Regions from separate parts of the Homo sapiens genome. Here regions 2, 3, 4 and 5 are each linked to region 1. Evidence: fine-mapped expression QTL. A gene starts in region 1. Each other region holds a variant in brackets. All regions are shown on one strand. Distances are between the middles of the regions.

Region 1 (5,103 bases):
CATTTAAGAATCAGAGCAGAGCGGGACACAGTGGCTCATGCCTATAATCCCAGAACTTTGGGAGGCCTAGGCAGGAGGATTGCTTGAGTCCAAGAGTTCTAGACCAGCCTGAGCAACATGGTGAGACCCTCGTCTATATCTATCTCTATCTGTATCTCAAGAATCAGAGAAATGCTCTTAATTGCCTACTCTTTCATAAACAAAGTAGTACAATGGAGAGAGTTGGAGTGAATTTTCCTTTTTCTTTTTTTTTTTTGAGACGGAGTCTCGCTCTGTTGCCCAAGCTGGAGTGCAGCAGCGCAATCTCGGCTCACTGCAAGCTCTGCCTCCCGGGTTCACACCATTCTCCTGCCTCAGCCTCCCGAGTAGCTGGGATTACAGGCACCCGCCACTACGCCCAGCTAATTTTTGTATTTTTAGTAGAGACGGGGTTTCACCTTGTTAGCCAGGATGGTCTCGATTTCCTGACCTCATGATCTGCCCGCCTCAGCCTCCCAAAGTTCTGGGATTACAGGCGTGAGCCACTGCGCCCGGCCATGAATTTTCATTTTATCCTCAATTTCCTCATCTGTAAAATGGGGACAGATTATCTCTCTAAAGATGATTATACCCTCCCCCTTTTTATTTATTACATTGTATTGCATTTTTTGCTTATAAGGATTTCTTCAAACTCAAGAAGTATGTTTTGTGTCTTCAACAGTAAAATACGATAGAACAAAGAAAAATAATACTTACTGAGCTCTAAGCATTTTACATGCATATTATCATTCAGTCTTTGCCACAACCTTGTAACTTCTATTTCTGGGTGTGTGACATAGATGAGGAATTCGGGCATGGAGAGGTGTGGAGAGACTTAATTGTCTAACCAAGGACATAGGGATAAATAGTGGATGGTGAACTAGAACTAATTTGAATTCAGTAAATGTTAACGAACATAAACCATAAAATAAATGGCTGTGCTCAATTAATGTTAGTTTTCCTTCCAACTAAATTCAGTTCAAGAATTGTGCTTGATGAATAACAATATTATTGCTGCCCTCTGAGATGTTTGGTAATATTCATTTGTTCAGTTTGCCTTAATTAAAAGAATATGCTTTTAGTGGCCGGGCGTGGTGGCTCACACCTGTAATCCCAGCACTTTGGGACGCAGAAGCAGGCGGATTGCTTGAGGTCAGGAGTTTGAGACCAGCTTGGCCAACATGGTGAAACCCCATCTCTACTAAAAAAAAAAAAATACAAAAATTACCCAGGCATGGTGGCGCCCGCCTCTAGTCCCAGCTACTTGGGAGGCTGAGGGACTTGGGAACCTGAGCCGAGATGGCGACACTGGCTCGGGTTAAAAGGGCGTGGTGGCTCACACACCTGTAATCCCAGCACTTTGGGAGGCCGAGGCGGGCAGATGACGAGGTCAAGAGATCGAGACCATCCTGGCCAACACGGTGAAAACCCGTCTCTACTAATAATAGAAAAATTAGCCAGGCCCGGTGGCACACGCCTACAGTGCCAGCTACTCGGGAGGCTGAGGCAGGAGAATCGCTTGAACCCAGGAGGCAGAGGTTGCAGTGAGCCGAGATCGCGCTAGTGCACTCCAGCCTGGCGACAGAGTGAGACTCCGTCTCAAAAAACAAAACAAAACAAAACAAAAAAACTTTTAGTCAGTGGTACTTAATGGTAAAGAAATAATAGATAATAAATAGAGGAAGAGTGTGTCCTGTACATTTTGGTGTTAAATTGTTGGGTCATTAAGTTTAATATCTGCAATCATTCTGGGAAAAAAAATTCCATCTCTAATGTTGCATTCAAGAAAGTAGATGATTTGGCTGACGGTTGTAATAGGGGTGATACAATGGAGGACTGGTAATTCGGAGCCCTGAGTCTTGGACTCTAGTTCTTAAATTACTATGTTCATTCACCAAAAATTTACTAAGCTCTTTCCACGTGCCGAGCACTGTGCTAGGCGCCCTGTGACCTTGGGTATGGCTCTAGGTCACCTTAAAAGGAGGATGCCATACCCTGCAAGAGCTCTTAGGGGCTTCATAAGGATGCGACTCAGGGAACTGAGGGAAGCGCTCCAGACGCAGAGCTCAATGGCCCTGCCGCCCAGCGCCTCCAAAATCTGAGATTCTTCTCTGAGGAAACTCCGCAGCAAGAAAAACTACATCAAAGATGGCGCCGCCGGCCTCTCCTGGCTCAGCCACCATCTTCTCGGTAGTTCCCGAGGTGGACGGGCACAGCACTCATGCGCCGCCCTGGCGTCCTCGGCGCGCCTGCGCGGACCGCAGCACCTCCCCCGCCCCTCTCGCCGCCGCCGCCGCCGCCGCCGCCGCCGCCGCCGCCGCCGCTGCTGCTGCACTGACGGCGGGTGCCCGCGCCTCAGGTGAGTGAGCGCCTCCGCCCGGCCCGCGGGGGGCGCGCGGCGCCGCATTCGGGGGCGTCGCTCCTTTGCCCTGCTCCTTCCCCGCATCATCTCCGCGGCACGGCGAGGCCCTGGTGGCCCGTGCTGCTTGCCTCCCCCGTGCCCCCGGGGCCCTCTGCCCCGCCCCGCCCGCCCGCCGGACCCAGGTCAGCCCGGCTTTCCTCGGCCGCTCCCCGCGCCCAGCCCGCCGGCGACAGCGTGTGGGTAGCAAGAGAGCCTCCCTCCGGGCTCAACACCCTGGGTCACAGGGACGCCCCCCGCAGGCGCGAACCCTTCTCTCGCTCTGGCTCTGCAGGCGGCAGAGCTTGGTGGGCCTTGGGGTTGCTCATCCATCTACCTCGCCCGCTCCAAGAGCCCAGATGCTTGGAAGAGGGGCCGTGAGCAGCCCTTGCACCCGTCCGGCCCCAGAGCAGCAGAGGGCATCCTCTAACGGGACCCTACGACTACCCTACCGGGGAGAGGCTTCTTAGCCCCACTTAACAGCCGAGGAAACTGAGGCACGGAAAGGTGAAGTGCCATGCCCAAGGTCACGCAGCTGACAAGTGGCAGGGTCAGCTCTCAACTCAGGGTCTCGGGCTCTCAGGCCAGTGCGGTTGGAATTTGATCTCGTACCTTTGAAAAAATTTTGAAATCACTTGTCATCTCTGAAGTTGCTCTCGAACGTCGTAAAAGTAGGCTGCACAAAAAAGATTTTCTTGTTGTCGGAGTACAATTGAGGTGTTACTGTAATAATAATAGTGTTATTAATATAAGAGCTAACGTTCTTCCACCGCTCGCTGTGTGCCAGGGATCTTGCTAAGCATTTTATTAAGATAACCTCGCATAACCACCTCTGCACTTCCCAATCCAAATGCTTCCCCCTTCCTTGTCATGAAGCCCTTTTTTTCTTCCTGCAGAGCTGGCCTCCCTATCACAGGTAGACTAGGAGCCCCGTGGATTAGGAAGCAGGGAAGCTTTCCTTTGGTGGCTTACTGACAGAACAAGAGTGATCCTTGCCTGCTGGCATCCAGATCACCCCCGCCGCGCCCCCCCCCCCCCTTACCCTGGCCCTCAGGGGATATTATTAGCCTTCCTTTCCTGCCAAGAGAGCAGGACTGGGCTGACTGGGCTAGCTGGGCGGGCTGGACTTGGAGGTGACAGAGCAGATTTGGCTAGCACTCACCTCATTCCGGGGCTTTCTGTCCGAGGCTTTCTGCCTTTGCCCCAAGGTTGGGCTTGAACATTTCAGTATTTAAGATAAAGCAAGAAGAGAAAGAGAACATTGATAGAGTGGTGCTGAATTTAAGAAGCCTCCCATGATTTAAAGTTCCAAATGAACAGCTATAAAAATATGTGAATGTTTCTCCCCCAAAATAACTAGCTCAAACTGTCGTTTTTCTCCCTTAGCAAATCCTCCTCCACATTTCAAAGGCTCCACTAAATCACCACCTTCTCTGTGAAGCCTTCCCTGCTTGATTTTCCCAATTAGAATTACACGTTCACAAAACAGGGTCTTAGCCTCAGTCTTACCCTGCGGACTTCTAGCCCCTTGAGGGCATGGTCCATCTTTGCAGCTCCAGATGCCTGGCTCACAGTAGATCCTTGGTAAGGACTCAGTTAATTTCCACCCCCCCTTTTCATTACTCAAAGCGTGGTGTTCTTCTGGTGCCCTTCTGTTCCTCCTTCCTGCCCTTCAGTTTCTCTTTGCTTGTCTCTTCCTTCAGATTAAACTTGTCATCACCATTTACCACTCAAAGGCCTCCATCCACCCTGTTGTTTTTGAAAACTTGCAGATAAGAGTCTTGCATCAAAAAGCCTGTTTATGGACCGGGCGCTGCGGCTCACGCCTGTAATCCCAGCACTTTGGGAGGCCGAGGTGGGTGGATCACGAGTTCGGGAGATGGAGACCATCCTGGCTAATACGGGGAAACCCCGTCTGTACTAAAAAATAACAGAAAATTAGCCGCGTGTGGTGGTGGGCGCCTGTAGTCCCAGCTACTCGGGAGGCTGAGGCAGGAGAATGGCGTGAACCCGGGAGCTGGAGCTTGCAGTGAGCCGAGATCGCGCCACTGCACTCCAGCCTGGGCAACAGAGCTCCGTCTCAAAAAAAAAAAAAAAAAAAAAGCTTGTTTATGTTACTTGAACGTGCACTCACGATTGAGCTGCTTTTGTTTTTTGTTTGTTTTTTGTTTGTTTTTGTTTGTTTTTTGAGACGGAGTCTCGCTCTGTTGCCCAGGCTGGAGTACAGTGGCGCCATCTCGGCTCACTGCAAGCTCCGCCTCCCAGATTCACGCCATTCTCCTGCCTCAGCCTCCTGAGCAGCTGGGACTACAGGTGCTCGCCACCACCCCCAGCTAATTTTTTTTGTATTTTTTTAGTAGAGACAGGGTTTCACCGTGTTAGCCAGGATGGTCTCGATTTCCTGACCTCGTGATCCGCCTGCCTCGGCCTCCCATAGTGCTGGGATTACAGGCGTGAGCCACCAAGCCAGGCCGAGCTGCTTTTGTTTTATTATTATTATTATTATTTTTTGAGACGGAGTTTCGCTCTTGTTGCCCAGGCTGGAGTGCAGTGGCGCAATCTCGGCTCACTGCAACCTCCGCATCCTGGGTTCAAGCGATTTTCCTGCCTCAGCCACCCAAGTAGCTGGAATTACAGGCGCCCGCCACCATGCCCAGCTATTTTTTGTATTTTTAGTGGAGACGGAT
Region 2 (5,103 bases), 59 kb after region 1:
TGTTCCACAAACATGGTAGCCAAGATCCACCCCTGTAACGTGTGGATGACACAGAAGGACAGCTCCCAGGAAAGAAGGGATCCTAGGCAGATACACCCATAGGTGTCTGGTGAAATTATCTACTGAAATTAATTATAAATTATCTGAACATGTGTTCAGAAGCTCCAAAACCTCTGATTTTTTACCCAGCAACTTCTTCATATCTTCCATTTCCTTTTTTCCCCACAAGTCTTACCTGGCTCCTTACCCAATTTGCTGATTTCCTTTCCATAGCCAATTGCAAATGTATTCTCAACAGATCCCTGGGCTCGTAAGTGAGCTTTGGAGATAACAAGGTGTGTTTTGCTCCCTATTTATTTTTCTGGAAGAATTGGAAAGTAGGAATATTATGTATACTCTAGCATCTCTCTGGTATGCATTTATTTTATTTTATTTTATTTTTTGAGACGAAGTCTTGCTCTGTCACCAGGCTAGAATGCAGTAGCACGATCTCAGCTCACTGTAATCTCTGCCTCCCAGGTTCAAGTGATTCTCCAGCCTTAGCCTCCTGAGTAGCTGGGATTATGTGCGTGTGCCACCATGCCTGGCTGATTTTTTATTTTTAGTAAAGACAGGGTTTCATCATGTTGGCCAGGCTGATCCTCAAAGTCCTGACCTCAAGTGATCCGACCACCTAGGCCTCCCAAAGTGCTGGGATTACAGGCGTGAACCACCACGCCCAGCCACATGTAATTTATTAATGTGTCCTGCCCCAGCTCGTGGGAAACGGTGGTAAAGCAGGTATTGTGAAACTTTGGCAACCTGGGAAGTTCATTCTGCTTTTTCTGAGAACTTACATTCTCTTGTTACAGGAACATGATATAGAAACAACTCATGGTGTGGTCCACGTCACTATAAGAGGCTTACCCAAAGGAAACAGACCAGTTATACTAACATATCATGACATTGGCCTCAACCGTATGTATTTTATTTTACACCTTCCCTTCTTATCATACTTGATCTTTGTATGTTAAAAACCAAACAACAACAATATTCTAATAGAGCAGAGGTTTCCCCCTCTCTGTGGTAACTTTCCCTCCTTGTTCCTACATTCGTTAATGGTATAAAGTTCCTGGGAAGTGTGCAGGGGAATGTATTCTGGGGATACTGGAATCACATCTCGCCTTCATGTCTGCTAAAGGATTGCAGATTATACAATGCACTGCTAAGAAAGTAGAACTGAAATCCATGTTTTCAAGCCTGTACTCTGTTTTTTTTTTTTAAATATGTTTCAGGTTAGAAAATTCAGAGTTGGAACTTAACTTTGTTGTGAGCTCTTCAATGAATTAGTAAGAATTCTTGCTAGAGCCTGTCACCAGTGACTTTAAGTGGACTTTTCTAGATGGTAGTGTAAGATTCTGGCCCCAGCCATAGACACACAGAGTCTGCATACATGTGTTTTCTTTCATGCTGCTCTGGCTTTCATAGATGCCCTGCATTTGAGGCCACAGTTGAGTGTTAAAGCTTTTGTAGCTGCCTTGGCATGAGAAGTGATTTAAGCAGGTATACAAAGAGGGTAGAAGTGGAAGCAGCAGCCCCTCCCTTCACTCTGGCAATTTTGCCAAGAGACAAACTCCCGTGTGGTGAATGTGAACAGCTCAGGACATTCACGCCACCTGTGCTCTTGGGGTATAATCAGTGTCTGTTTGTGAGATAGAGGAATAATGTCCATGAGAAATGACAGCATTATGGGTGTAAGATTATTTTGTGCAATAATCGGAAACCACCAAATATTAACAAAGTAATTTCTACTTTGCAGACATTATTTAGAATTAAGAATTGTTTTCAATATGTATCTCAATATGAGATGTCTTATATTCAGCCTTTAGGGCAGCTTGAATCAGACAGATTGTTCAGACACCTCACTTTGGTGGAATGGTGGTTAAAAAGCAGGGAAAGAAGGTGATAATAGGCATTGACTGAGTAGAGGAAAATTGGGGCGATATGGAGAGCCTGTGACTTATGGGTATTTTTATTCTTATAGATAAATCCTGTTTCAATGCATTCTTTAACTTTGAGGATATGCAAGAGATCACCCAGCACTTTGCTGTCTGTCATGTGGATGCCCCAGGCCAGCAGGAAGGTGCACCCTCTTTCCCAACAGGGTAAGGCCACGAAAAGATCATCTGGGAGACGTGCACTCAGTAGAGCAACTGGCTGAGCTCCAGTGGGAGAAGTGGTGTGTGCTTCCCTTTGATTTTATTACCGTCTATAGGTTATGCTTATTGACCAACCATCCTCATATTTTCTCTCCTTGGGCTGAGAGGACTGTTATGTACAGTTTTTTGGGGGAAACTGTGTGTTTTCCCATATCCAGGAATGGCTCTCCATAGCAGGTGCCTGCTTTCCTGTAATCTCAAGGCATAAGTGTCTGGAACATCTACTCCTCACTGTCTTTATCTTTCCCTTCCTTATCTGTTTGAAAGCTGTCATTTTTTAGCGAGACGTGGTGACTCACACCTATAATCCTAGCACTTTGGGAGGCAAAGGCAGTAGGATTGCTTGAGCCCCGGGGTTCAAGACCAGCCTGGATAACATAGGAATACCTTGTCTCTACAAAAAATTGAAAAATTAGCCAGCCAGGCATGGTGGTGTTCACCTGTGGTCGTGTCTGCTTGGGAGGCTGTTGTGGGAGGATCACTTGAGCCCAGGGGATTGAGGCTGCAGTGCCTGGATGACTGAGCAAGACCCTGTCCCCAGAAAGAAAACAAACAAACAAAAAAACCTGTCATTTTTGTGTCCTTCCTCAAAACTCCCAACTACTTAGGCCCAAATTCAGATCTCTCTGAGCTTTCCTGGGAGCATCTCCCCATCCTTAGCTCTCAAACTAGT[A/G]ATGGAAATTTGACTATCTGTGTAACTGTTTATTCTGAGAGGCTGTCCTGGCAGATAGAGGTGTGGGGTGATTGATTGGCTTTGGCACTCTCAGCTTCCTCCTACATCTGCTTCGCAGGGCAGAGTCATAGGCTCCCTACCTGTTTGTTCCCTGGACGGGTGCTTATTGAGAAGACCTTAGGAGGAGTGAGCACACACTCTGTGGAATGCTAATTCTTCCCCTATCCTTTCACTCATCTCCAGAGCTGCCTTTGGCCAGTGACTGCTGGGAAATAGACAATTGCAGACAAATAATAGCTAATATTTAAATAGTACTCAAACCGTGTTCCAGACCCTGCTTTAAATGCTTTACATTTGTTAACTCATTTACTCCTCACAACCCTATGGGATAAGTTTACTATTATTCCCATTTTATAAGTGAGGAAACTGAGGCCCAGAAAAATTAAGTAACATGGCTAACATTACATAACAAATAAGTGGCAGAGCTAAGATTTGAACCCAGACAGTCTGGTGCCAGAATCTGACTCTAAAATGCAAATTGGCCAGTGGTCAGTTTATATCCAACAAGATTTGTATCCAGTTCCTTTTTTCTATTTTGTGGACAAATGGTTCCACAGCACACCATCCCCTTAAGTGTTCAGGCAGAGGCAGGCTGACTTCCCTGTCAGATGTAGAACAGATCCTGCCTCATATATAAGTGGTCATCTTAGGATCAATTCCATCTCCAATTCTGTAATACTTTTTCTTTCTTTCTTGAGATAGGATAGTGCTTTGTTTCCCAGGCTGGAGTACAGTGGCGTGATCATGGCTTACTGCAGCCTCAACCTCCTGGGCTCAAGTGATCCTCCCATCTCAGCCTCCCTACTAGCTGGGACTACAAGTGTGTGCCAACACGCCTGGCTAATTATTGTTATTTTCTGTAGAGACAGGGTTTTGCCCTGTTGCTCAGGCTGGTCTCGAACTCCTGGGCTTGAGCAATCTGGTTGCCTCAGCCTCTGAAAGTGTTGGGATTACAGGCGTGAGCCAACGCTCCCAGTCGGATGCTTACTACTTTTCTAGGAATTCTGATCTGGGTCTGTTCCTGGGCCTGCTCGAACATCTTAGGATCAGATGGTTCATATTATGAACCAAATTCAAATACAATAAAATAACCATGCCAGACACAGTGGCTCACACCTGTAGTTCTAGCACTTTGTTAGGCTGAGGTAGGAGGATCACCTGAGGCCAGGAATTCAAGACCAGCCCTGGCAACATAGCGAGACTCCATCTCTACAAAAAATTGAAAAATTAGCCAGGCATGGTGGCATGCGCCTGTAGTCCCAGCTACTCAGAAGCCTGAGGCAGGAGGATAGCTTGAGCCCAGGAGTTCAAGGTTACAGTGAGCTATGATTTCACTACTGCACTCCAGCCTGGGTGACAGAGTGAGACCATGTCTCTTAAAAAATTAATAATAATAATAATAATAATAATAAAATTTTAAAAATAACTATGTTATTCTATGCCTAAGTGAAACAAATAAGCATTCATGCTAAGGGTTTGTAACTGTGTGCCCATACCTAGAAAAGCTTTATTTTTGCATTTAGTTGCCTAAATATAGCAGTAGACCAAGACCCCCTTTCTGAGTTGACTCTTACTGCCGGAGGTTTACTGAGCCTGGACTCCAACTGAAGAGATTGTTAGAGGTTTGGAAATACCCTAAGAGAGAACCATGTTACTAGTTCTTTTCATGTGGCACCCTCTGGTCCCAAGGGCTGCTTGTTAGGATATAGAAACCGTGGATTATTTTACTTTCTCCTTAGCATGGCAGTTGTAGAGAGTTACACAATATGCCACAATCATTTTCAGGGTACCACATCACCTCCTTTGAGCCTTTGGTAAAAGGAAATGCTTTTATCTAAGATTTTTTTTTTTTTTTGAGGCGGAGTTTTGCTCTTGTTGCCCAGGCTGGAGTGCAATGGCATGATCTCCGCTCACGGCAGCCTCCGCCTCTCAGGTTCAAGCAATTCTCCTGCCTCAGCCTCCCAAGTTTCTGGGATTACAGGCATGTGCTACCACACCCAGCTAATTTTGTATTTTTAGTAGAGATGAGGTTTCTCCATGTTGGTCAGGCTGGTCTCGAACTCCCAACCTCAGGTGATCTGCCCACCTCGGTGTCCCAAAGTGCTGGGATTATAGGCATGAGCTACTGCGCTCAGCCTTTTATCTAAGACTTCTGGACCTTTCCAGCTGTTC
Region 3 (5,103 bases), 71 kb before region 1:
ATGTCTTCATGTGCCATGATCCATTTGCCTTTCTTTTCCTGTGAACTGTTTTTCATATCTCTAGCCTATTTTCCTACAGGTCTGCTGGCCTTTTAATGCTCTGTTTGTGAAACTCTTTCCATATTTAGGATATCAACCCTTTGTTGGTGTTGTACATTGCAGATATTTTTTCAGAGTTTGTCATTTATGTTTTTACTTTTCTTAAGGTGTTTTTATTTCCATGCAGAATTTGCTTGTATAATCAAATGTATCTATTTTTTCCCCTATTGCTTCTGGATTTTAAACATCTTATTTTTTTGAGGTGGAGTCTTGCTATGTTGCCTAGGCTAGTCTCAAACTCCTCAATGCAAGCAATCCTCTCACCTCAGCCTCCCAAAGTACTGGGATTACAGGCATGAGCCACTATGCCAGACCAGCTTCTGGATTTTTGAATCACTGTTTGCCATCAGTCTCTTATGACCATTTCTAAGCCTCATGTGTAATTACGATTTGTTATATTCATTTTATTGTTGTTGTTTGTTCTTTGAGACAGGGTCTTGCTATGTTGGCCAGGCTGGTCTCAAACTCTTGGCCTCAGGCAATCCTCCTGTCTTGGCCTCCCAAAGTGTTGGGATTACAGGCATGAACTACCACATCCAGCCTCCATATTCATTTTATCCATTAGTATTCATTCTGAATTACAGTTCCCACTAGATGTCAGTTTCATGAAGACAGGATTTTCTCTGAGATGGAGATTTGCATGCAGAGGTTTATGGAAGAGTCTCCTTGGGAACAACACCACAGGGAGTGAGGCAGAGCTGGAAGCTGAATTACACCAGTGATCTCAGGCGATCCCATGGGGAGCTCTGGAGCTAGGATGGCCCTCCCTGTAGAGCTGAGGCAAGGGGTCATGGACCCATCCCTGGATGTGGGCTCCATCCACGGATAGCACCTGCCCTTGGACAAGGTGGTTCTCCTCAACCAATGGCTGTCGCTGGGAGAGGTACTCAGCTTTGAGGTCTCAGCTCTGGGAATGAGTGTCTCAGTTCCGAAGGGGAATCTGGGCAAAGCACCACAACATCCTCCCTGGTTCACTGCTGTGTTCTCTACACCTACCTACCTGGCGCTTGATAGGTGCTCAGGAAATCCTTTGATGAAAGACAAATGAGAACAGAAACACAGCTTTCCAAGTCTTCGCCGAGGCCAACTGGGTCACACATGGGAGCAGGCTGGAGGGGAGGAGCCCTGAGCAGGTGTTTTTAGAATCATCTTCTCCAATGCTTCTGGCCTATCTCCCATTGCTGCTCACTGGGTGATCTGGAGGGCTCCTCTTACTCAACAGTCAGTGCCATCAGGGTGGGGTGGCCTGGGGACTGGGGCCCTCCCTGGACCCTGGGCACTGTGACAGCTCTCTGCATGTGCATCATTCTGTGAGCTTTCAGTCCTGACTTTTTTTTTTTTTTTTAATTAAATCTCACTTCAGCATTCCTTGAAGAAAAGAGGAACCCGCTCCCTGGGGAAGGCCGATAAGAAGACTTTGGTGCAGGTAATTCCCAGCAGCCCCCGTAGGAAGGTTTTATTCTGAAGACCTGAGCCTGACTCTAAGTGGCCTGGGGATCCCAGATTCTGCCCTGTCCTCCCCTTGCTCATTTTCCTTTTTTTCTTTTCTTTTTTTTTTTTTTTTTTGAGACGGAGTCACACTCTCTTGCCCAGGCTGCAGTGCAGTGGCACAATCTCAGCTCACTGCAACCTCTACCTCCCAGGTTCAAGCAATTTTCATGCCTCAGCCTCCCGAGTAGCTGGGACTACAGGCGTGCACCACCACACCTGGCTAATTTTTGTATTTTTAGTAGAGACAGGGTTTCACCGTGTTGACCAGGCTGGTCTTGAACTCCTGGCCTCAAGCAATCCACCTGCCTCGGCCTCCCAAAGTTCTGGGATTACAGGTGTGAGCCACTGCGCCCGGCCCCCTTGCTCATTTTCTTAGTTTCACTGCCCACTTTATTTCCCAAAACCACATCCTGAGCCCATGGTTCTTAGATGCTTAGATGCTCGCTCCCCACCCCAGCCAGGAACTTAGCAAGCAGCACTACAGTCAAATCCAAAGGTCTAGAGTTGGAGACCCAGGCTTGAATCTTGGCTCTGCCACTTGACTGCCATGTGATTGGAGCGAGTCATTTTGAGTTTCTGGGCTCCATTTCCTATCTATCCCTGTCTTGGGGGTTCA[T/C]TGGAAGAATTGGATGAAGTACTATATGCAGCAAAGGCCACATACCGTTAGCTCCTAGTGGTATGGGATTGTCAGAGTGCCAGGCCCTTTTCATCCTTAGCTCATTTAATCCCGTCTGTGGCTCTGGGAGGGAGGTAATGTTACCGCCCCATTTTACTGATGAAACTGTAGTGGCAGCAGTTGCTCATCAGTATGTCACCTGTTCCTGTACTCCCAGGCTATGTGTGGCGCCCCATCCTTGCTGTCATTTCAACATCTACCCCTCTGCGTCTCCCCCGGACCCTTAGCTCCTTGAGGGTCTGGCTGTGTCTGATTCATCCCTGTGTTCCCAGCACATAGTGCTCCCCAAAATGCCATGGCTGGTACTGAGACTCCCAGCACTAACCTTCCTGGGTTGTGTCTGTCTCTGTGGTCCCAGGAGGACAGTGCAGACCTGAAGTGCCAGTTGCACTTTGCAAAGGAGGAGTCAGCCCTCATGTGCAAGAAGCTCACTAAGCTTGCCAAGGAGAATGACAGCATGAAGGAGGAGCTGCTGAAGTACCGCTCGCTCTATGGGGACCTGGACAGCGCGCTGTCAGCCGAGGAGCTGGCCGATGCCCCCCACTCGCGGGAGACCGAGCTGAAGGTGCACCTGAAGCTGGTGGAGGAGGAAGCCAACCTGCTGAGCCGCCGCATCGTGGAGCTGGAGGTGGAGAACCGAGGCCTGCGGGCTGAGATGGACGACATGAAGGATCATGGAGGTGGCTGTGGGGGTCCTGAGGCACGCCTGGCCTTCTCCGCGCTGGGTGGCGGAGAGTGCGGGGAGAGCTTGGCAGAGCTGCGGCGACACCTGCAGTTTGTCGAAGAGGAGGCCGAGCTGCTGCGGCGCTCCTCTGCCGAGCTCGAGGACCAGAACAAGCTGCTGCTGAACGAGCTGGCCAAGTTCCGCTCGGAGCACGAGCTGGACGTGGCGCTGTCGGAGGACAGTTGTTCTGTGCTCAGCGAACCTTCACAGGAGGAGCTGGCGGCCGCCAAGCTGCAGATCGGCGAGCTCAGCGGCAAGGTCAAGAAGCTGCAGTACGAGAACCGCGTGCTCCTCTCCAACCTCCAGCGCTGTGACCTCGCCTCCTGCCAGAGTACGCGGCCCATGCTGGAGACGGACGCCGAGGCCGGGGACTCTGCCCAGTGTGTGCCTGCTCCCCTGGGCGAGACACACGAGTCCCATGCGGTCCGACTCTGCAGAGCCAGGGAGGCCGAGGTGCTGCCTGGGCTGAGAGAGCAGGCCGCCCTGGTCAGTAAGGCCATCGATGTCCTGGTGGCTGATGCCAATGGCTTCACGGCTGGCCTCCGGCTGTGTCTGGACAACGAGTGTGCTGACTTCCGGCTGCATGAGGCCCCCGACAACAGCGAGGGCCCCAGGGACACCAAGCTCATCCATGCCATCCTGGTGCGCCTGAGCGTGCTGCAGCAGGAGCTGAATGCCTTCACGCGGAAGGCAGATGCAGTCCTCGGGTGCTCTGTCAAGGAACAGCAGGAGTCCTTCTCATCACTGCCCCCCTTGGGCTCCCAGGGGCTCTCTAAGGAGATTCTTCTGGCAAAAGACCTTGGCTCAGACTTTCAGGTAAGGTGCCTCATGCACAGATCCTATTATTTATTTTTTTCCTTTGTTTTGTTTTGTTTTTCTTGAGATAGGGTCTCTCCCCGCTGGCCAGGCTGAAGTGCAGTGGTGCAATCTCAGTTCACTGCAGCCTCGATATCCTGGGCTCTAGCCATTCTCCCCCCCTCACTCTCCTGAGTACCTGGGACTACAAGTGAGCACCACCACACCCAGCTAATTTTTATTTATTTTTTATTTTTTTTGAGACGGAGTCTCGCTCTGTCACCCAGGCTGGAATGCAGTGGCGCAATCTCGGCTCACTGTAACCTCCAACTCCCAGGTTCAAGCGATTCTCCTCTCTTAGCCTCCCAAGTAGCCAGGATTACAGGCGCCCTCCATCATGCCTGGCTAATTTTTGTATTTTTAGTAGAGATGGGGTTTCACCATGTTGGCCAGGCTGGTCTCGAACTCCTGACTTCAAGTGATCCGACCGCCTTTGTCTCCCAAAGTTCTGGGATTACAGGTGTGAGCCACTGTGCCTGGCCATAATTTTTAAATTTTTTTGTAGAGATGGAATCTTGCCATATTGCCCAGGCTGGTCTTGAACTCCTGAGCTTAAGTGATCCACCAGCCTCAGCCTCCCAAAGTGCTAGGACTATAGGTGTGAGCCACTGTGTGTGGCCTAATAGTCACATTTTAAATGTTCAGTATTTGTGTGTGTCTAGTAGAGTGGATCTAGAATATTTCATCCTTGCAGCTTGTCCTTCTAAATCCTTCTCTACACATCTATCATATATTTGTTTTTCCACCCAGATTGCTTTATATCTATTGTTACTACACAACTTATATTTTTAACGCAATGTATCAGTTTGTTAATTTATGATGCCTTGTCTGTTGTTCACACAGTTTTTGTGCTCACTGCTGAAGATGTCATGATTAGCAAAAACAGATATGATTCCCCCTCTCATGGTCCTTATCATCTAGTGGGGCAGAGTCACCCAAAATATCATGTCAGTGAATGTGCAATTAGACACTGAGAGAGGAATCTGAAGGAAGCGTACATGGTTTTATGAACAAGGAACTTGACCTAGACCCTATGCTGAGGGAAGGCCTCTGATCTGACCAGAGGTCAGAGGGATGGATGGCTGGGGGAACACAGTGTTTTCAGCAGAGCAAATAGCCTGTGCAAAGACACAGCTCAGATCAGAGGCGGAAGGAGCGTGGTGTGTCCAGGACACTGAGTGAAGAGACAATGTGAAGCTGGACTGCACTGAGCATGCGGGAGGTTTGATCTTCATCCTCAGAGCAATGGCAGGGAATT
Region 4 (5,103 bases), 21 kb after region 1:
ACTTGGGAGGCTGAGGCAGGAGAATCACTTGAACCTGGGAGGCGGAAGTTGCAGTGAGCCAAGATCGCCCCACTGTGCTCCAGCCTGGGCAACAGAGCAAGACTCTTGTCTCAGGAAAAAAAAAAAAAAAAGAAAGAAAGATATCTACCAGAGAGGATTGTTATGAGGATTAAACATAAGGTGCCGAGATTATAATTCCTGACAGAGTAGGTAGCCACCTTTTCTCCTTTCCCTTTCTAGCCATTTGGTATCAGATTCATTTCCTTAATTTGAAGATGGCTAGTTTTTCCTTATCAATCCTCCCTCCTACTCATATGACTAGGAAACAGGCAAAAATTATTGACTGCAATTTATAAAATCCCTACTTGCCTTTTGAAAATATTAATAGCTTTTAGTACCTGTATGGGATCTGGCAGCCATACCATTTGTACAGATGCCGGAACTGCAGGCCTTGGATCCCCAGGAGGGAGCCCGTCTGTGCAGCTGAGGGATCTGGAGATGGAGTTTTCCACCAGAATCTTAGTTTTCTTGTATATGTTATAAAACTGCTCATTGGCAAGGGCTTGAGACATTGAAAGCGGAGCAAAAATGGAGTCTCCAGAAGAATGCATTAGATCCCCTAATAGTGGAAGGTGAATGTCTACTGCCAAGTTGCCAAATCCTGAGTCACCCTGGAGCAGCTTACTGTCCTGCACAACATTGTCGCCTGAGCCTGCATTGGGCCTAGCTGATAGGGACAGCCTTCTCATTTAATTTGTGTCTTTGTTTAAGTGTTTGTTGGTGTAAAAATTGCATTTTTCTTCATCTTTAAAAAAATACTTAGGGATGGGTATGGTGGCTCACACCTGTAATCCCGCACTTTGGGAAGCCAAGGCAGGGGGATTGCTTGAGTCTAGGAGTTCAAGAGTAGTCTGGACAACATAGTGAAACTCCTGTCTCTAAAAAAAATGTTTTTTAAGTTAGCAAGGCATGGTGGCACATGCCCATTGTCTCAGCTGTGTGAGAGGCTGGGGTGGGAGGATTGCTTGAGGCTGGGAGGTTGAGAGCCATGATTGTGCCACTGCACTCCAGCCTAGGTGAAAGAGTAAGACCCCATCTCAAAAAAAAAAAAAAAAAAAAGGAACACTAGGTGAATGCCAGTCACTTTGGACTTGAGGGCACCTTAGGCCTCTCTCTGACCCTTTGACAGGCCCACCCATGTGGAGTCATATTTGAATAATTCCCATCTTGAAGTGCATTGCTTTCCAGTGAGTGAATTAAAGTAGGGATAAAGTGGGTGAGTTGAAAAAACAATTTCAGGAAATCACCATTTAAGTGGGAAAAAGAAAAACAAGTGGAAATAGGCTAAAATGGTTTTCTTTAGGTGGAAGGACAATGAGTAAATTATCTGTTCATTATTCTGTGATTTCTGTATTTTCTTTTTTTTCTTTTTTTTTTTTTTTTTTAGACGGAGTCTCATTCTGTCACCCAGGCTGGAGTGCAGTGGTGCGATCTCAGCTCACTGCAACTTCTGCCTCCCAGGCTCAAGCGATTCTCCTGCCTCAGCCTCCCGAGTAGCTGAGATTACAGAGCTTGCCACCACACCCAGCTAATTTTTGTATTGTTAGTAGAGACAGGGTTTCACCATGTTGTCCAGACTGGTCTCGAACCTCAGGTGATCCACCCACCTTGGCCTCCCAGCGTGCTGGGATTACAGGCGTGAGCCACCATTCCCGGCCAATTTCCATATTTTCTTCTTTTCTGTTTTTTGAGACAGGGTCTCACTCTGTCGCCCAGGCTGGAGTGCGGTGGCGCAATCTCAGCTTACTGCAACCTCCACCTCCAAGGATCAAGCAATTCTCCTGCCTCAGCCTCCTGAGTAGCTGGGATTACAGGCGTGCACCACCACACCTGTCTAATTTTTTTTATTTTTAGTAGAGATGGGGTTTCTCCATGTTGGCCAGGCTGGTCTTGAACACCTGACCTCAAATGATCCACCTGCCTCGGCCTCCCAAAGTGCTGGGATTACAGGCGTGAGCCACTGCGCCCGGCCGATTTTCATATTTTCTAAAGTGAGCACATATTGCTTTTATAAAAGGGAAAAAGCTGGTTTTGTTTTGTTTTGTTTTTAAATTTTTGAGACAGAGTCTTGTTCTGTTGCCCAGGCTGGAGTACAGTTGACAGATCTTGGCTCACTGCAACCTCCGCCTCCTGGGTTCAAATGATTCTCGTGCCTCAGCCTGCTGGAG[T/C]AGCTGGAATTACAGGCGTGTGCCACCACACCCAGCTAATCTTTGTACTTTTAGTAGAAATGGGGTTTCACCATGTTGACCAGGCTGGTCTCGAACTCCTGACCTCAGGTGATCCATCCATCTCCGCCTCCCAAAGTGCTGGGATTACAGGTGCGAGCCACCGGGCCCGGCCGGAAAACGCTTTTAAATTGCCATTTAAAATAACTGATAAATAGTAAAGTTCAAATAAAAAGTAGCCACAGTTTGTAGTGTTATTAATAAACAAACATGGAGTAGATTCCAGTTAGGCCAATATTTTAAGAGTTAAGTGGGGACTGTGAAAAAGAGAATGTAGATGCTGGCTGAAACTCACTGTTTAAGAGTCAAGCCACCTCACCCCCTTTTGAAATGTGACTGGTATAAAAACAAAAAAAGATTCAACTTCTGGGCATTAAGTAGCTCAATCAAGTATATGGGTGCCTGCGATCTGACAAAAGAACCACTGTCCTATAGGGAGGTTAAACATCATCAAATTTGTGGTCTCTAGGTGGTTCACACTTTTGGAATATTCACAGTTAGCATGTGGGGTTCATAGCCTGAGGAGTGTTCTCAATAGACATCCTCTGAGTCCCTTGAATAAATGATAAGAGGGCTTTTTTGTTAGTCTGTTCTAACATAGGCATAGCTGGGAGCAGGATTTATTTCAGTGTGTTGGCAAATAATAGCTAAAAGGTAGCCTGGAACACATACCCTCTCCATAGGTAATTAAATCAAAATCATGTCATTCTATCTCTAGAAGGTAAACAGAAAAGTGGATTAATATAGTACACTAGGCCGGGCGCAGTGGCTCACGCCTGTGATCCTAACACTTTGGGAGGCTGAGGTGTGTGGATCACTTGAAGGCAGGAGTTCAAGACCAGCCGGGCTAACATGGTGAAACCCTGTCTCTACTAAAAATACAAAAATTAGCTGGGCATGGTAGCAGGTGCCCATAGTCCCAGCTTCTCGGGAGACTGAGGCACGAGAATCGCTTGAGCCCAGGAGGCGGAGGTTCCAGTGAACCACGATTGTGCCACTGCACTCCAGCCTGGGTGACAGAGCAAGACTAGGTCTCAAAAAAAAAAAAACAAAAACACCAGACACACACACACACACACACACACACACACACACACACACTAGACTAATATCTTTTGAAGGCTTTCTTGATTTCCACCAATCAGACATAATTGCTTCTCCTTTGAATTCCTATGGCCCTTCTTTTTATTTATCAATTTGTAGATCAACATCATCTCTACTCTTTAGAGGCAGGGACCCTTTTTGTATCTTCCATAGTGCAATGGGTACTCAATAAATGGTTGTTAAATGTAAATCCCCAACTCTGAATTAACATTTTTCCTGACTTGATAGGTTTAGGGCCAAGACAAAAAGGATGATGCCTGAAGCTTTGAAGTCTAGGTGGGAATCACTTTCCTGCAATATTGAGTATTTGCAGCCTATCCCCATGGCTTCTTGCATGGTGAGATAGAAGAAGAATTTGTAGTTCATTACCCTGCCTACCTCTCTCCAACTTGTCTCCTCTCTCTGAGCTCCCCATTCTGCTCTCCCTATGTATTAGTTCTCTATTGCTATAGATCACTCTAAAACAAAATTATTATCTCTCATGGTTTCTGTGGGTCAGAAACTTGGGAGCAGGCTTGGTAGGGTGGTTCTGACTTAGAGTCTCTCATGTGGTTGCAGTCAGGTGTCCCTGGGGCTGTAGCTATCCGAACTCTTGACTGGGGCTGGAGGATTCATTTGCAAGGTAACTCACACACATGGCTAGCAGGTTGGTGCTGGCAAGTTGGTTCCTCTCCACATGGGCCTCGCCAGAGGGCTGTTTGAGTGTCCTGATGATTTGGCAGCTAGCTTCCCCTAGAACTAGTAGTTTATAGTGTCTTGAAGCACAAAGTGTAATGCGTTTTATGATGCAGCTTCAGAAGTCACATATTGTTGCTTCCTCCATATTCTATTAGTTACACGAGCCATCCCTGATTTATTTGGGTGGGCGATTATACATATGTGTGAATGAATATCAGGAGTCAGGGATCACTGGGCTCGTTGAAGGCCATCTTGGAGCTGACTACCATACCTTTCACCCACTGCTGTGATTCCCCAAATGAGGATTAGTAAGCTTAGCCTTGGTTCCCTCCTCTTTCATTCCCACTGCCATTCCTAATTCAAGTCCTCATCCTGCAGTAATAATCTTCAATTTTTGTCCCCGCTTAATCCGTCTTCCAGTCTGTTCCAAGCATAGTTTTGAGTATGTTGTTTCTTTATCCGTCTTCAGTAACTAAAACGTGTGCTCCATGAGAGCAAAGACTATTGTATTAATTGTATTAATCTGTTGCTGCATAAAAATATTACCGCAAATGTAGTAGCCTAAAACAACACATATTCATTGTCTCTCAGTTTCTGTGGTTCAGGAGTCTGGTGTGGGCTGTGTAGGTCCTCTGCAACATGGCGATCAAGGTGTCGGTCAGCTTCTTCTCTGACACTCAGCTGGGGAAGGATCTGCTTCCAGGCTCCTGTTGTTGGCAGCATTCAGTTCCTTGCAGATTGTTGAACTGAAGGTCTCAGTTTCTTGCTGTCTTTCTGCTGGAGGCTGCTCTCAGTTACTTGTTACGTGGCCCTCTCACAGCACATCAGCTTGCCTCTTCAGACCTAGCAGGGGAGAGTGTCCCTCAGCAAGACAGATGTGAAAATATTATATAATGTAATCATGCAAAGTCACTCATGTACATTCCATCACTTTTGCCGTATTCTAATGGTTAAAAGCAAGCCACAGGCCCTGCGCACACTCACTGGGGGTATTAGGCAAGGATGTGAATACCAGGAGGCAAGAATCCTATAGACC
Region 5 (5,103 bases), 40 kb before region 1:
GCAGTTTGGCTCTATCACAGCACTTTTATTTTATTTATTTATTTATTTATTTTTGAGACGGAGTCTCGCTCTGTTGCCTAGGCTGGAGTGCAGTGGCACGATCTTGGCTCACTGCAAGCTCCGCCTCCCAGGTTCACGCCATTCTCCTGCCTCAGCCTCCTAAGTAGCTGGGACTACAGGCACCTGCCACCGCGCCCGGCTAATTTTTTGTATTTTTAGTAGAGACGGGGTTTCAGATGGTCTCGATCTCCTGACCTCGTGATCCACCCGCCTTGGCCTCCCAAAGTGCTGGGATTACAGGCATGAGCCACCGCGCCCGGGCCATTTTATTTATTTTTTAAAGAGATGGGGTCTTGCTCTATTGCTCAAGCCAGAGCCCAGTGACACAATCATAGCTCACTGCTGCCTTGACCTCCTGGGCTCAAAGGATCCTCCTGTCTCAGCCTCCCACATGGCCCAGCCCAGCAGCACTTTTTTTTTTTTTTTTTTTTGAGATGGAGTCTCACTCTGTCCCCCAGGCTGGAGTGCAGTGATGTGATCTCGGCTCACTGCAACCTCCGCCTCCTGAGTTCAAGCCGTTCTGCTGCTTCGGTCTCCCAAGTAGCTGGGACTGCAGGAATGTGCCACCATGCCCGGGTAATTTTTGTATTTTGAGTAGAGATGGGGTTTCACCATGTTGGCCAGCCTGGTCTTGAACTCCTGACCTCAGGTGATCCACCTGCCATAGCCTCCCAAAGTGCTGGCATTACAGGTGTGAGCCACCATGGCCAGCTGTCCAGCAGCACTTTTTTTTTTTTTTTTTTTTTCAGATGGAGTCTTGCTCTTTCACCCAGGCTGGAGTGCAGTGGCACAATCTCAGCTCACTGCAACCTCCGCACCCTGGGTTTAAGCGATTCTCCTGCCCTAGCCTCCCGAGTAGCTGGGACTACAGGCGCATGCCACCATGCCCAGCTAATTTTTGTATTTTTAGTAGAGATGGGGTTTCACCATGTTGGCCAGGATGGTCTCGATCTCCTGACCTCGTGATCCACCTGCCTCAGCCTCCCAAAGTGCTAGGATTACAGGCATGAGCCACCGTGCCTGGCAGCAGCACTTTTGATCATTATTTCTGTTTATTGGTAATAGTAAAAAATTAGAAACTACCCAGATGTACATAAAAAGTGAATTGGGGCCAGGCACAGTGGCTCACACCTGCAATCCCACCACTTTGGAAGGCCGAGGCGGGCAGATCACTAGAGGTCAGGAGTTTGAGCCTGACCAACATGCTAAAATCCCCTCTCTACTAAAAATACAAAAATTAGCTAGGCATGGTGGCACACGCTTGTAATCTTAGCTACTTGGGAGGCTGAGGCACAAGAATCACTTGAATCCGTGAGGTGGAGGTTGTAGTGAGTCAAGATCGTACCACTGCACTCCAGCCTGGGGAACAGAGCAAGATTCTGTCTAAAAAATAAAAAAATAAAAAAAGCGAATTGGGTATATAAATCAGTTATTTCTATCTAGTGAAATGGTACAGAGACACTAAAAAAGAAGGCGATCAGCCAGGCATGGTGGCTCATGCCTTTGGGAGGCATGAGCACCCAAAGGTGCTAATTCCAGCAGTTTGGGAGGCTGAGGCAGGAGGATCGCTTGAGCCCAGGAGTTCAAGACCAGCCTGAGCAACATAGTGAGACCCTGTCTCAAACGAAAAAAAAGGATAAAAAGGAAGGAGATCTAGACATACCTAGTGACAGAAAAGTGTTCGTGTTTTACAGTTGCAAAATAAGCTGTCATTTTGGTAAATGTATGTTAAGAATCTCTTTGGCGTGCAGGACCATGGACAGTGTCCACTGTCCTCTCTGTATAGCCTAGAATATATTACAATGAACTTCCATTACCGCTCTAATGGGAGAAGAACAACAGAAAGAAAAAATTGGTCCAGTGAGGAGCTTCAGCCCCTGGGAACTGGTTTATGGCCGAGTCTCAGTTCCTTGCCTGGCATACCACACAGCTCATGGTGGTCCATGTCTCCTGGCTCCTCTTGACTTCCTGCCTCCCTGCCTCCCTCTTCCTAGGACGCTGTTTGTGACTGTAGTACCCAGTCTCTCACCTCCTGCTTCGCCCGATCGTCCCGCTCTGCCATCCGCCACTCTCCTTCCAAGTGCAGGCTGCACCCTTCAGAGTCCAGCTGGGGTGGGGAGGAGAGGGCA[C/A]TCCCCCCCAGCGAGTGACAGAGCAGCCAAGCTCCCCGCCTCAACCAGCCCAGCCCCTGGATAGCAGAAGGGAACCAGCAGAGACGAGACGAGGTGAGGCGAGGGGCTGTGTCCTCAGCATTGCCTGGCCCTGGAGGGACAGCAGTGATGCCACTGCCAGAATGCAGCTTTCACATCAAGGTAAAGCCGGGTCTCCTGCTGGCCCCTGGGTGGTGAGCTTCGACTTCCCAGGGGAAGGCAGTGAGTGGGAGAGAGACCAAACCTGGGCTTCCCAAGCATCCACTGAGAGATCTGTCAAGAGCCGATCCCTGGGTCCTAAGAGAGAGCCTTGCCTGGTTCTGCCCATGCCACCCTCTTGGAAGAGCCCAAGAAGGATACATGTCTGGCCATGCCTTTGGGGAAAAGGAGTCGGAGAGATGTTTCCTGCTGACCATCCACCCCTTCATTTGGGAGGAGACACTGCTGAGAAGAACAGGCTTTGCTCTAGGGCTCCATGTTTGGTTCCTGGTGGAGCCCTGTTGGGCATCATCACCATCACCTCCTTCTCTCCACCACCTCCTCCTCCCAGCCCCACTGCTCTAGATTGCTGGGACACTAGGGAGTATGATAGGGCAGTAGCCAGGGCCATTGCTTAGTGTCCTGGAGCCCTGGATCTCCCTGCCCATAGCCTGGATGCAGCAAGAGCTGGGAGGCGAAGTGGAAACATGCAGGGCTCAGGGTTGGGGAGTGATTGCAATTGCCTTCCTTGCCAAAGTGACTTGGGGCCCCAACGTTCCCAGCAGACCCCTTGAGGACAGAAATAGGTAGAGTCAGTCTCAAGACCTGGTGCATAGATAAATGCCTAAATACACTGCCTTGATCTCAAGTGATCTCAGAGGCCTCTTTCCCTGGCACCCTGAGAGGCAGCAGGCACTACATCTCCACTGTGTTTACATCCTGCAGCTGGTCGGGGGGCAAAGATATTCCCAGTAAGAGATTCTTGGTTGGCCAGGTCAGGCCCAGGAGAACACCAAGAGGCCAGAGCCCAGGACACAGCAGTAGACTGGGGCCTGGAAACACGTATCTTGCCTAGATTGTTTATTTGAATTTTTCCTACTATAAATATTTAAGGTGGTTTACTTTATTTTAATAATTTAATTTACCCCAAAGTCCCTAAGGTAATTTATTGGAGGTTGAAACATGCATTCTTGCCACTGGGACAACATGAGGCCTCTAACAGCACGGGCAGGCATGGGGTCCCCTGGGTGGACGAGGCCGCTTGGCAGCCAGGTTTGGAGACCTGGCCTCCTGGTCAGCTTTGGAGGGCCCCTCAACAGAGCTGGAGCCCTGCACCCCAACACGGCTGGCCATGTGGCCTCAGAACACTACTTATTACTCAATGCCTGGTACTTGGCCAGCCCCAGCGGTCAGTCTATAAATACTCACTGACAAGGTGGAGGGCTGGACGGCCATCACCACTCCCCAGACGTTCTCCATTGCCTGTCTCATTTCCCTCCCTCCCTCTGACACCTTTCTTCATGAGTCGAACGTGGATTACTAAAGCTCTATTAAGAGTGTGGAGATCCCTCCAAGTTTCCCAAATGAGAACTCACAGGAAAACAGGACTGAACTTTGAGAATGTTGTTTATCGCAGCTTTGCACATAAACCTGAGTGTCTCCCAGCCTGCCTCGGTTCTCACCAGCCTGCCAGCCTTTTCACCAGCCTCTCTCCTTAGCCTTATGGCCTTTCACGGCTCTTCTCCCTGCCCCAGCTCTGCTGCCCGCCCTTCCTCACGTCCCCTGTGAGCTGCCTGAGCCATTGGTTGGATTTCGATGTGGCTCATTGCAGCATGTGGGGCAGCGCCTCCCATGGCCTCGCCTTGGTGCCGGTGAACCCCTTTTGGTTGCACACATGCTCCCCACACACACATAGACATCAGCCTTCCTGTAACTGACTGGGGACCCAGAGTGGAAACACCAGGATGGATCAGCTTGTCTGCAGAATTGCCCATCAGGAAGACCAAAAGCCAGTAGCTTTGCTGATCTGCCCCCAGGACTCTGGAGGCGCCCCTGCACTCCCACCTCCCACCTGCCAGTTCCCAGACCCACCCATTCGGGATCACCTGGACCAGTTACCCCAAGTCCTGCATCTCCCTTCCCTGCAGGCTGAACACCAGGGTCATGCCAGTCCCGCCAGCCGCCTCCTCCATGCCCCAGTGACTGGTGTGGGCAGAGCAGGCAGCCAGTGGAGCTGTGGGCCAGTTCCGCTCTTGGATGCTGCTGCTCTCACCCATGAGGTCAGGGGGGCCCTCCAAGGTTATCTCCAGGTGAGGGGATTCACATCAGGCCACAAGCCACCAGAGGCCTTCTGCCACCTCCCAGAGCGACAGCCAGGGAGGCTGCGTACTCAGCCTCGGGGAGAAATCCCCGTGGGACCTGAGCCCCAAGACCTACGGACCACTCAGCCTTACCATCGTACCGTCCAGGATTGTCCTTGCCATCTTTGTTGTCTCAGCCAGACCTTGGTTTTCAGTAAAGCCCCAGTTTCTACTTCCTGCATGCCACTGTGCAAGGCCACTCATCACTGTTCCTGCAGAAGCCTCTGGACGTGGGGCTGGATGGGGTTGAAAATGTTACATGTAAATATTGGTTTGGTTCGGTTTTTAGCATTTTACTTGGTAACTGGTTGTTTTCTTTTTTGGGGTGGGGGGATTGGTTTGTAAAAATTCTCTACTCTTTTGGAATGTGATTTCTAAGTTTGTTGGTTTCTTCAAATGCCTTTTAAGTCTTGGTAACATTCCCAAAGCAGAAAACTGCCTGACCCACAGTGGGGATTCCCTGGAGAATTGGGGTCCCAAGAAGGAATGCTGCCCTTCTCGAACCCGTTCTCCCCCTTCCTCCTGCCTCTCTGCCTTTTACTGCTATTCCCTTCTTC

Which allele goes with the higher level. Positions count from the first base shown, and alleles are read on the strand shown. Sizes are in standard deviations (SD) of each study's normalised expression. Not every link is listed here.
With allele C in place of T in region 3, the expression in stomach of the gene that starts at base 2,332 in region 1 is lower (small effect, 0.37 SD a copy in GTEx).

What was found.
Region 2: its variant is fine-mapped to the expression of NDRG3 in whole blood (INTERVAL, PIP above 0.99).
Region 3: its variant is fine-mapped to the expression of NDRG3 in stomach (GTEx, PIP 0.94).
Region 4: its variant is fine-mapped to the expression of NDRG3 in whole blood (TOPMed, PIP 0.98).
Region 5: its variant is fine-mapped to the expression of NDRG3 in whole blood (TOPMed, PIP above 0.99).

What each region holds. Positions count from the first base shown.
Region 1 is chr20:36,743,319-36,748,421 of GRCh38, reverse strand. NDRG3 (NDRG family member 3) reads left to right here and starts at 2,332. Exons shown (of 16, transcript NM_032013.4): 1 at 2,332-2,377. RefSeq lists enhancers at 2,079-2,178, 1,903-2,869 and silencers at 2,289-2,488, 2,519-2,708.
Region 2 is chr20:36,684,533-36,689,635 of GRCh38, reverse strand. It overlaps NDRG3 (NDRG family member 3), which reads left to right. Exons shown (of 16, transcript NM_032013.4): 4 at 852-957; 5 at 2,024-2,144. Among named protein-coding and RNA genes, the nearest start is that of SLA2, 41 kb to the right of the region's middle. The variant A/G (reference allele first, on the strand shown) is at 2,872.
Region 3 is chr20:36,813,829-36,818,931 of GRCh38, reverse strand. It overlaps MTCL2 (microtubule crosslinking factor 2), which reads left to right. Exons shown (of 15, transcript NM_080627.4): 4 at 1,463-1,525; 5 at 2,625-3,806. Among named protein-coding and RNA genes, the nearest start is that of DSN1, 43 kb to the right of the region's middle. The variant T/C (reference allele first, on the strand shown) is at 2,207.
Region 4 is chr20:36,721,943-36,727,045 of GRCh38, reverse strand. The region is part of intron 1 of NDRG3 (NDRG family member 3); the gene reads left to right. Among named protein-coding and RNA genes, the nearest start is that of NDRG3, 22 kb to the left of the region's middle. The variant T/C (reference allele first, on the strand shown) is at 2,229.
Region 5 is chr20:36,783,589-36,788,691 of GRCh38, reverse strand. MTCL2 (microtubule crosslinking factor 2) reads left to right here. Exons shown (of 15, transcript NM_080627.4): 15 at 2,055-5,103. The coding sequence ends at 2,207. Among named protein-coding and RNA genes, the nearest start is that of DSN1, 12 kb to the right of the region's middle. The variant C/A (reference allele first, on the strand shown) is at 2,190.